2 separate regions of the Homo sapiens genome follow, and region 2 is reported to be linked to region 1. Evidence: microRNA targets listed by miRTarBase, many of them from high-throughput screens and not tested one by one. Region 1 holds a microRNA gene; the other region holds the end of a gene's coding sequence.
What was found. Region 1 holds the annotated microRNA hsa-miR-324-3p (CCCACUGCCCCAGGUGCUGCUGG, at 4,113-4,135, shown strand). A microRNA usually pairs through its seed, bases 2 to 8, with sites in the 3' UTR of a target mRNA and lowers its output. Matches are read on the target gene's strand: a 7mer-m8 pairs with bases 2 to 8, a 7mer-A1 pairs with bases 2 to 7 and ends in A, and an 8mer does both.

Region 1 (5,178 bases):
GCATGTGGCTCAAGATCACCATCCCTAATGCCTTTCTGGGTATGGCTGGGTCCTGGGCAGGTGGCTGGAGAAGGGGAGGAGGTGGTGACCAAAGCCAGGAATGGCACAGGCAGAGGCGAGAGCAGGAGTTGGAAGAAGAACCTGAGGCCTTTTTCCACTGTGGGTGCTCCCAGGCTCGGATGTGGTTGACTGGCTCTACCATCACGTGGAGGGCTTTCCTGAGCGGCGGGAGGCCCGCAAGTATGCCAGCGGGCTGCTCAAAGCAGGCCTGATCCGACACACCGTCAACAAGATCACCTTCTCTGAGCAGTGCTATTACGTCTTCGGAGACCTCAGTGGTGGCTGTGAGAGCTGTAAGTCCCCCTGCCCCAACTCTGGGAGTGTGGCTTTGCCTACCTTGTTCTGCCTCTCCAACCCTAGACCTAGCCCAGAAACCGCAGCCAGGGCCACCATGGATGGTCGAGCAGTGTGTGTCCCGCACTAGGTCCTGCACTGGCCGAGGATGGGGGCTGACGTCCACCCATGTGCTGCTGGACAAGCCATGTGCCAGGTGCAGGACTGTGTCCACCGGGGGAAGGTGCACCTCTTACCTGAGTCCCGCAAAGACGTGGGCTAGTGGCTGTGCCCCTGCCCTCATGGCAGAAGTAGATGGGAGTTTCTTGTCAGAGACCCTTGTGAACCCCTGTTTTGAGCCCCATCGTGGGTGGGTCTGGGAGAACTGTTCCCAGTTCCTCTCCATTCGGTGTCTTGGGGCCCTAGCCTCTTGAAGCAGTGATTTCTTCCTCTCTTCCCTTGCTTTCCAGACCTAGTCAACCTGTCTCTCAATGACAACGATGGCTCCAGTGGGGCTTCAGACCAGGATACCCTGGCTCCTCTGCCTGGGGCCACCCCCTGGCCCCTGCTGCCCACTTTCTCCTACCAATACCCTGCCCCACACCCCTACAGCCCGCAGCCTCCACCCTACCATGAGCTTTCATCTTACACCTATGGTGGGGGCAGTGCCAGCAGCCAGCATAGTGAGGGTAAGTCATCCCCACATACCTGTACGGCCAGGATCTGAGGGTGGATGAGAGGGGAGCCAGGGAGGAGCCTGGGTGAGGACTCAGTTGCCCCTCCCCTCCCTCCACAGGCAGCCGGAGCAGTGGGTCGACACGGAGTGATGGGGGGGCAGGGCGCACGGGGAGGCCCGAGGAGCGGGCCCCCGAGTCCAAGTCCGGCAGTGGCAGTGAGTCTGAGCCCTCCAGCCGAGGGGGCAGCCTTCGGCGGGGTGGGGAAGCAAGTGGGACTAGCGATGGGGGCCCTCCTCCATCCAGAGGCTCAACTGGGGGTGCCCCTAATCTCCGAGCCCACCCAGGGCTCCATCCCTATGGACCGCCCCCTGGCATGGCCCTCCCCTACAACCCCATGATGGTGGTCATGATGCCCCCACCTCCACCTCCAGTCCCTCCAGCAGTGCAGCCTCCGGGGGCCCCTCCAGTCAGAGACCTGGGCTCTGTGCCCCCAGAACTGACAGCCAGCCGCCAAAGCTTCCACATGGCCATGGGCAATCCCAGCGAGTTCTTTGTGGATGTTATGTAGCCCACTGTGGGGCCAGGCTGGGCCGGGCGCTCCTGGTGTGTGACTGGGTGTCCTGGCCGTCATGTGCTTGCTCTTACAGTGCCTGGGCTCAGCCTACCAGCTGCTGCCATACAGGAGATTGTGGCCACTGTGACTCTCACCAGCAGTGCCTGGTTCCTCCCCCTTCCCTCAGGGGTAGACAAGGGACCTTTGATTATTTTTAGCTTTGTTTTTTTATAAGCCTTTTTGGGGGTTAAAATAGAGTTTCTTACATTTTTGGGACTTTTTTAATAGGCATTTCCTCTTTTATATGAAGAATTCCCATCCATTGGGCCCCTTCTAACCCCAGAATGTGACCTCCTCCTCCAGTTACCCACAGCCCTGCCCTTTGCAGGGTTGGGGGTGGTCAGCGGTACCCCGGGGTTAGGCATCCTAGACAGCAGCCTGAGGAAGCTGGGAGATTTGGGCCATGTAGCTGCCTTTGTTACTCTATTTATTTTAGTCACTTGTATAAAACACCAAATAAAGCAATAGAGGCAAACTCCCCACGCCTCTGGCTCCTTTCTTTGGGAGGGAGGCAGGCAGCAGGGGGAAAGAACCGTCACACAGGAGCAAAGCATGACTGGCTAGAAATTTTTATTATTTGCGAGGCAGTAAGTGCTCTTGAGAGCAGGCACAGTGCTGGGAACACTAGGCCCCTTCGGGACAAACCAGGGCCTTAAGGAAAGGGGCTTCGGCTTTGGCTTGAGGGAAGGCACATAACTGGGACAGGCCCTGGCCGGGAGTATTCAGAAGCCAAGTGGGTTGCTGGTGACCACACCACCCCGCTCCACCAAGGCCTTGGAGATGCTTTTGAAGTTGCGGTAGAGCTCTTGCTGCCAGGGGTCAGACTGCAGGGCGGCCATGCCCTCTCGGATCCGAGCTGCAGCCTGGGGAGAGGGAAGGAGGGGTTGGGCCTGCACCTCCAGCCCTCACCTGAGCTTGGCAGCCCCGAGTCTCACCTCGATACACCAGGTGTCACAGAGCATTTTCTCATGCTGGGCCGTGGGGTGGCCCTCACTCAGGGATCTTGAGGCCCTGGCAGGAAGCAGGAGATGAAAATAAATCTGGGCCGGCTGGGATCCAGGCCCAGGCCCCCTGCGGCTCAGGCATTCCCTGCCTGCCTCCTCACCTCGAGAGAACCACCACCATGGCATAGAGGTCGATGGCCCCGTCTGCCAGCCGCTGCAGCAGAAACTGTTCATCTGTCCGGTAGGTGGGGTGGGGGTGGGGGTGGGGGCATTAGTCTCAAGGAGAGGAAAGGGAGGGGCGGAATGGTGTAGAGCTCACTTACTGACAATCCCCTTCTTGTGTTTTATCAGCTTGGCCTCCACCACAGTGGCAAACTGCTCCAGAGCCCGTACTGCCTTAAGAGATGGGGACAGTGCGGGGCTCAGAGGGGCCATCGGCTGCAGTCCCTGATGCAGGCTCTCCTGGACCCCTGGCCACTTACCAGCTCGCCACTCCGACTCAACTCCGGGTGGACAAGTCCGCTGAGACTCAGGCCGCTGCCCAGCCCTGCCCGCCTGAGAGGAAGAGGGAGAATGACTGGTTAGTTGCCATACACCACCCTGCCCTCCCCTGGCTCTGGCCCTAAGCCTACCGCCTCAGCTGTTTGCCTGCCTCTCCTAGCAGGAGGCCAGCATTCCCAAAGGGATTCTTTAGAGCACTGCCAAGCCCAGAGAGCTCCTTTCCTTTGTCCTATGGGGGAAGAGGGTCCAGCAGTCAGGACTCACTGTCCTCCCCACCTCTACCCCCACCCAATTCTCTGTCTTACCATACAGCCCTGCAGAGCCACAAACAGCCGAAGAATGTCATTTGTCCCCTCAAAGATCCGGAAGATGCGAAGATCTCGGAGCACACGCTCTACTCCAGGTTCCTAGCACAGGGCCACACAAATTATATGCCCGTGCTGAGATGTGCCTACCCACCCCTGGCCCAGCCGAGGCTCTGCAGAAGACCGTCCTGTACCTTCATGAAGCCCATACCCCCCATGATTTGGATGCATTCATCTGTCACCTTCCAGGCTGCCTCCTAGGGACAAAGAACAGATGAGACTGGTTTTGGGAGCTGAGCACCCAAACTGGACTCCCTCCCAGCATGCCTGGGACCTCACCGAGCCAAAGATTTTGCTGATGGCGGCCTCTATCTGGAAGTCCGTGGCTCCCTGGTCCATGTTAGCACTCACCATGTAAGCCATGGACTGAGGTTGCATAGTTGGGACATGGGAAGGAAAATTGCAAAGGGCTTTGTCAGACTTGGCCTCATCACCCAGATCTCCAAGATAAGGGCTGACCTAGCTTGTCAGGTCAGGCAGATACTTGTTCTGGGTCAGTTCATCAGGTGCTTCCAGGTATTTGTTTTCTTAAAAGGGGTGGATGTAAGGGATGAGGTAGAATTAACTTCTGGTACTGCTGGCAGGCACCTGAGCAGAACATCATTGCTGTCTCTCTTCGCAGAAGCTGAGCTGACTATGCCTCCCCGCATCCCCTAGGGCATTGGTGTAAAGCTGGAGACCCACTGCCCCAGGTGCTGCTGGGGGTTGTAGTCTGACCCGACTGGGAAGAAAGCCCCAGGGCTCCAGGGAGAGGGGCTTGGGAGGCCCTCACCTCAGTTACATACTGCAGCATAACCATCCGTGCCAGCTTCTCCTGGATCAGCCCAAAGTTGTGAATTTTCTCCCCAAACTGGGTACGATTAGTGGCATGATCTACCTGGAAGAGGGTCCACACATCCCGCTGTGGTTCAGTGTGGTTCTGCAGTCTCCCTAGGAGAGGGGCTGGGCTTGCGCCAGAGGGATGGGTTTTGCATACAACCAGAGTTCAGTCTACGCTGGATGGAGACCTAAGCTAGCAAGTCGGGCTGCTGGTAGGGGAGGAGTTTCTAGTGTAGGGAGTGCCTGCAAGTGATCAGGGACACATGGCAAGGGGGACAGTGAGACTTCTGTTTGGGTTACCTAGGGACTCGGGCAGGGTACTCACCGCCTTAGCAATGATGCCTCTCATGGTACCTGCCAGGGCCGCAGCCATGCCAAACCTTCCATTGTTGAGGATGTGCATGGCAACCTTGAAGCCACTCCCAACCTCACCCAGCACGTTCTCCGATGGCACCCGTACTCCATCAAAGAACACCTCTGCTGTGTTTGAAGCCTTGATGCCCATCTTCTTCTCAGGGGGCCCACTGTGTCAGGGCAGTGTGGGAAAGCAGAGGTGTGTTCAACAGGTTGTCACTGGGGGAAAAACTGCTCCTTCGCTCCTTATGCACCAGGGAGGAATGACGACCACTAGACTATTAGAGGCTACAGCCACCACTTCCCCTCAGGCCCTGAGGGCTAAGGAGGCCTGGCTATGTCCTATTTTGTGTTGGACTTGGTTGCTGGAGCCAAAACTTTAGCTCAGTTGCATACATATTAGTCCCAAAGGCCACATTCAGTCCACCTGCTTTGGCTTTTGCACACGTCCCCAGGGTGACTTGCAACAGCCATCTGCCCAGGAGCCCAGTCCTGCCCCTCAGTCCTAAGCTCCCCCAACCCAAATTCACTCACTGGGTAATGCCCCCGAAGCCCCTCTCCACCACAAAAGC
Region 2 (3,000 bases), not on the chromosome of region 1:
CCTGCCCCCGTCCTCCTCCGGGCCCCCCTGCCCTGCCCTGACGTCCACCTCACCCCCGGTCTGGCAGCAGCAGACCATCCTCATGCTGAAGGAGCAGAACCGACTCCTCACCCAGGTAGGGCAGGCGCGGGAGGGGTGCAGGGGTGGGGGTGAGGCCCCGCAGGCCTTGACCAACTGTGCACCTGCCCAGGAGGTGACCGAGAAGAGTGAGCGCATCACGCAGCTGGAGCAGGAGAAGTCGGCGCTCATTAAGCAGCTGTTTGAGGCCCGCGCCCTGAGCCAGCAGGACGGGGGACCTCTGGATTCCACCTTCATCTAGTCCTTGTGGGCCGCGTGGGCCCCCAGGGCCAGCCTGGCACTCAGCCCTTCGAGGGTGGGCGCCCCATCGCACCCACCCTCTCTGGCTGGAGACCCCCGGCAGGCCCAGGCACAGTCCCGGAGTGGGCGCCTTCCTGCCGCCCTTGCCAGATGGGCTCCCCAGGCCTGCCCCCGGCTGGTCCCCGCACCGAGCGCTTGACTCCGTTTTGGCTCCTGGTGCTGACATGGGCTGGGGCTCTCTTGAGTCCGCATAGTCCGCAGCTACTACTGCCGCTGTCAGTGGACAGTGGGGTACCCCTCCATGAGTTAGCGTCCCCCCGTTTCCAGCGGTGCCGCCCTGGGTCCCATCTTCAGGGAAAGGCACTGCCCACGCCAGGCTGCACTTCCAACAACGGGCAGCAGAGGGCGCGGGGCGGCTCCGACGCGGGTCCAAGGGCAGCTTCCCGCTCAACCAGGGCACCAGGACGAGGTGGCTGTAGCTCGGACGGACGGAAGTAGATGGAGGGGGTGGGGACGGCCTGTAAGCGGGGGGTGCCTGCCTGGCTGGGGAGCCCCAGGGATAGCGGTCGGACTTCAGGTTCTGGCCAAGGCTGAGGGACCCTGGCTGCAGCGGATCGGCACGCCGGGTGGGCGAGAGCTTGGCCTGCATGTGCCTCCCACAGACCCTGGGGTGATGGCCTTCCCCCTCTTGGCCGGGACGTTGCCCCACGTTGAGTCCCACACAACATCCTGTGAGCCTGGCTCCCCAGGAGGGCCCCCAGACAGCTCCCAGGCACGTCATAGGCAAAGCCTGTTCCCCCGACTCAGGATTTCCAAGGCCTGGGGTCCTGCTCACCCCCCTTTGCTCTCACGCCCAGCCTGTCCCCAGGTTTCAGCTGGGAGAGGCCACCTCCCTCAGCCAAGGAAAACGAGAACCCCCAGGGTACAGGAGGAGGCTGGGGCAGGTCCCCTTGGGTGTCACTCCCTCAGCCCCTGCCCAGGCCCACTCCCGCTGGTGCTGGAGTACGCACTGGTGGGGGGGCCCTGCTCAGCCCAACCTGGAGGGTCCCAGTGTCACCAGAACCAGGGGCACGGCAACAGCATCGATGGGTTCTGCAGCCCAGGGCCCCCGATGCGGGGTCAGTGCGTGGGGGGCGCAGGGCCCCCGATGCCGATGCGGGGTCAGTGTGTGTGGGGCGCAGGGCCTCCGATGCGGGGTCAGTGCGTGGGGGGCGCAGGGCCCCCTCGTGTCCAGGGCACTTTGGTACACTGTCCCACAAGGCACCTGTCTCAGAGGAGGGGCCCTGGCAGGCAGCGTGGCAACTCCCTTCCGGAGCCCAGCTCCATGCTAACCTGCCCACAGCAACCCCACAGAGCCACATTCCCTGCTGCACCTGGTCTGCAGGGGTGTCCCAGGACAGGCCCAAGTCAGCCCAGCATGCAGCTGCCCTCCTACCCTGAAGATGGGAGTGGGCTTTCCAGGGGACATAAGGATGTCAGGCCTGGACCTCCTGGGCAGGAAAGGGTGCAGGTCCTGAGGGCCTGTGCCCCACAGCCCCAGCACCAGGTGGACTGCAGCGCAGTGGGTGGGCCAGTGGCAGCCAGGGAGAAGCCCCCCGTCAGCAGGCTGGGGTCTGCCCACCAGGGCCTCCCCACGTCTGCCTTTGAGGGTGCCTGCCATGCCCTGGGGGATCCTGGCATCTTTACTGGACTGGAAGCAGGAGACAGAACAGTGTCTGTCCCGGGGTGACTTCATCAGGAGACCGCCCACATAGAGCTGGACCCCGCAGCTGAAGCGGAAATGTGAGACAGGCTGGCACCTCCGGAAAAACTGCCTTTCAGCCTTGGTGTTCCGTGCAAGGTGAAAAGAAATAGGTCCTCCCAGTTTACAGCTTGAAATCAGGCTAGTGAGTGGCCCTGGAGACCACGAGGGGAGAATTTAAAGGCCCCGGCTGGCAGGGTCTAGGTGGCTGGCAGAGGCACATGCAGACCCTGCCTGGAGCCTGCCCTAGGACGCTGGGCGGGTCAGTCTCCGTGCAGGATGTGAGCAGCGTCCCTGGGCTCTATCCGCGAGGTGCCAGTAGCGTGTGCAGGTACATACACGTGCGTGCACACTGTGATGACACCCGGAAATGTCTCAGGATGTTGAAATGTGTCCTTGGGGGCAGAAGTGTCCCCAGTTGAGAATCTGCCCCAGAGGAACACACCCACACCAGGCCTCAGGATTTTGTGTTGATCAAGTTCCAAGGAAAAGGAACATCTCAGCCGGGCGTGGTGGTTCACGCCTGGAATCCCAGCACTTGAGGCCAGGAGTTCCAGAGCAGCCTGGGCAACGCAGTGAGAGACCCCATCTCTACAAAAAAAAAAAAGAAAGAAAGAAAATGAGAGATCCAGGTTTAAAAATTCATAAACACCACAAGGAAACAATACACTATGAGACCCAGCAGAAGCAACAGATTGACTCTAGACCCAGATACTAGAATTATCAGAGAGAATATAAAGTAACAGTGTTTTATATATCTAAAGAAATAAAAGAGATTTCTGGAAACATGAACAAGGAGTGGTATTTATAGTTCCTTACTCCATGAAAAGCATGATCTCTTAATGCTATAAAGAAGACTAGGCCGGGCGCAGTGGCTCATGCTTGTGGTCCCAGCACTTTGGGAGGCCGAGGTGGGTGGATCACCCGAGGCCAGGAGTTTG

Region 2: the mRNA of SAPCD2 is a reported target of hsa-miR-324-3p. Seed matches in the 3' UTR shown: 7mer-A1 at 596-602 and 7mer-m8 at 1,877-1,883.

The regions. Positions count from the first base shown.
Region 1 is chr17:7,222,265-7,227,442 of GRCh38, reverse strand. MIR324 (microRNA 324) reads left to right here and starts at 4,064; the gene lies at 4,064-4,146. ACADVL (acyl-CoA dehydrogenase very long chain) reads right to left here. Exons shown (of 20, transcript NM_000018.4): 9 at 5,141-5,178; 10 at 4,578-4,776; 11 at 4,206-4,310; 12 at 3,713-3,799; 13 at 3,568-3,630; 14 at 3,374-3,475; 15 at 3,200-3,297; 16 at 3,050-3,122; 17 at 2,891-2,963; 18 at 2,729-2,801; 19 at 2,559-2,634; 20 at 2,177-2,486. The coding sequence ends at 2,346. DVL2 (dishevelled segment polarity protein 2) reads left to right here. Exons shown (of 15, transcript NM_004422.3): 12 at 1-39; 13 at 174-353; 14 at 804-1,022; 15 at 1,130-2,101. The coding sequence ends at 1,578. RefSeq lists an enhancer at 1,988-2,487.
Region 2 is chr9:137,061,978-137,064,977 of GRCh38, reverse strand. SAPCD2 (suppressor APC domain containing 2) reads left to right here. Exons shown (of 6, transcript NM_178448.4): 5 at 1-115; 6 at 191-2,851. The coding sequence ends at 319. Among named protein-coding and RNA genes, the nearest start is that of SAPCD2, 7.1 kb to the left of the region's middle. RefSeq lists an enhancer at 392-1,169.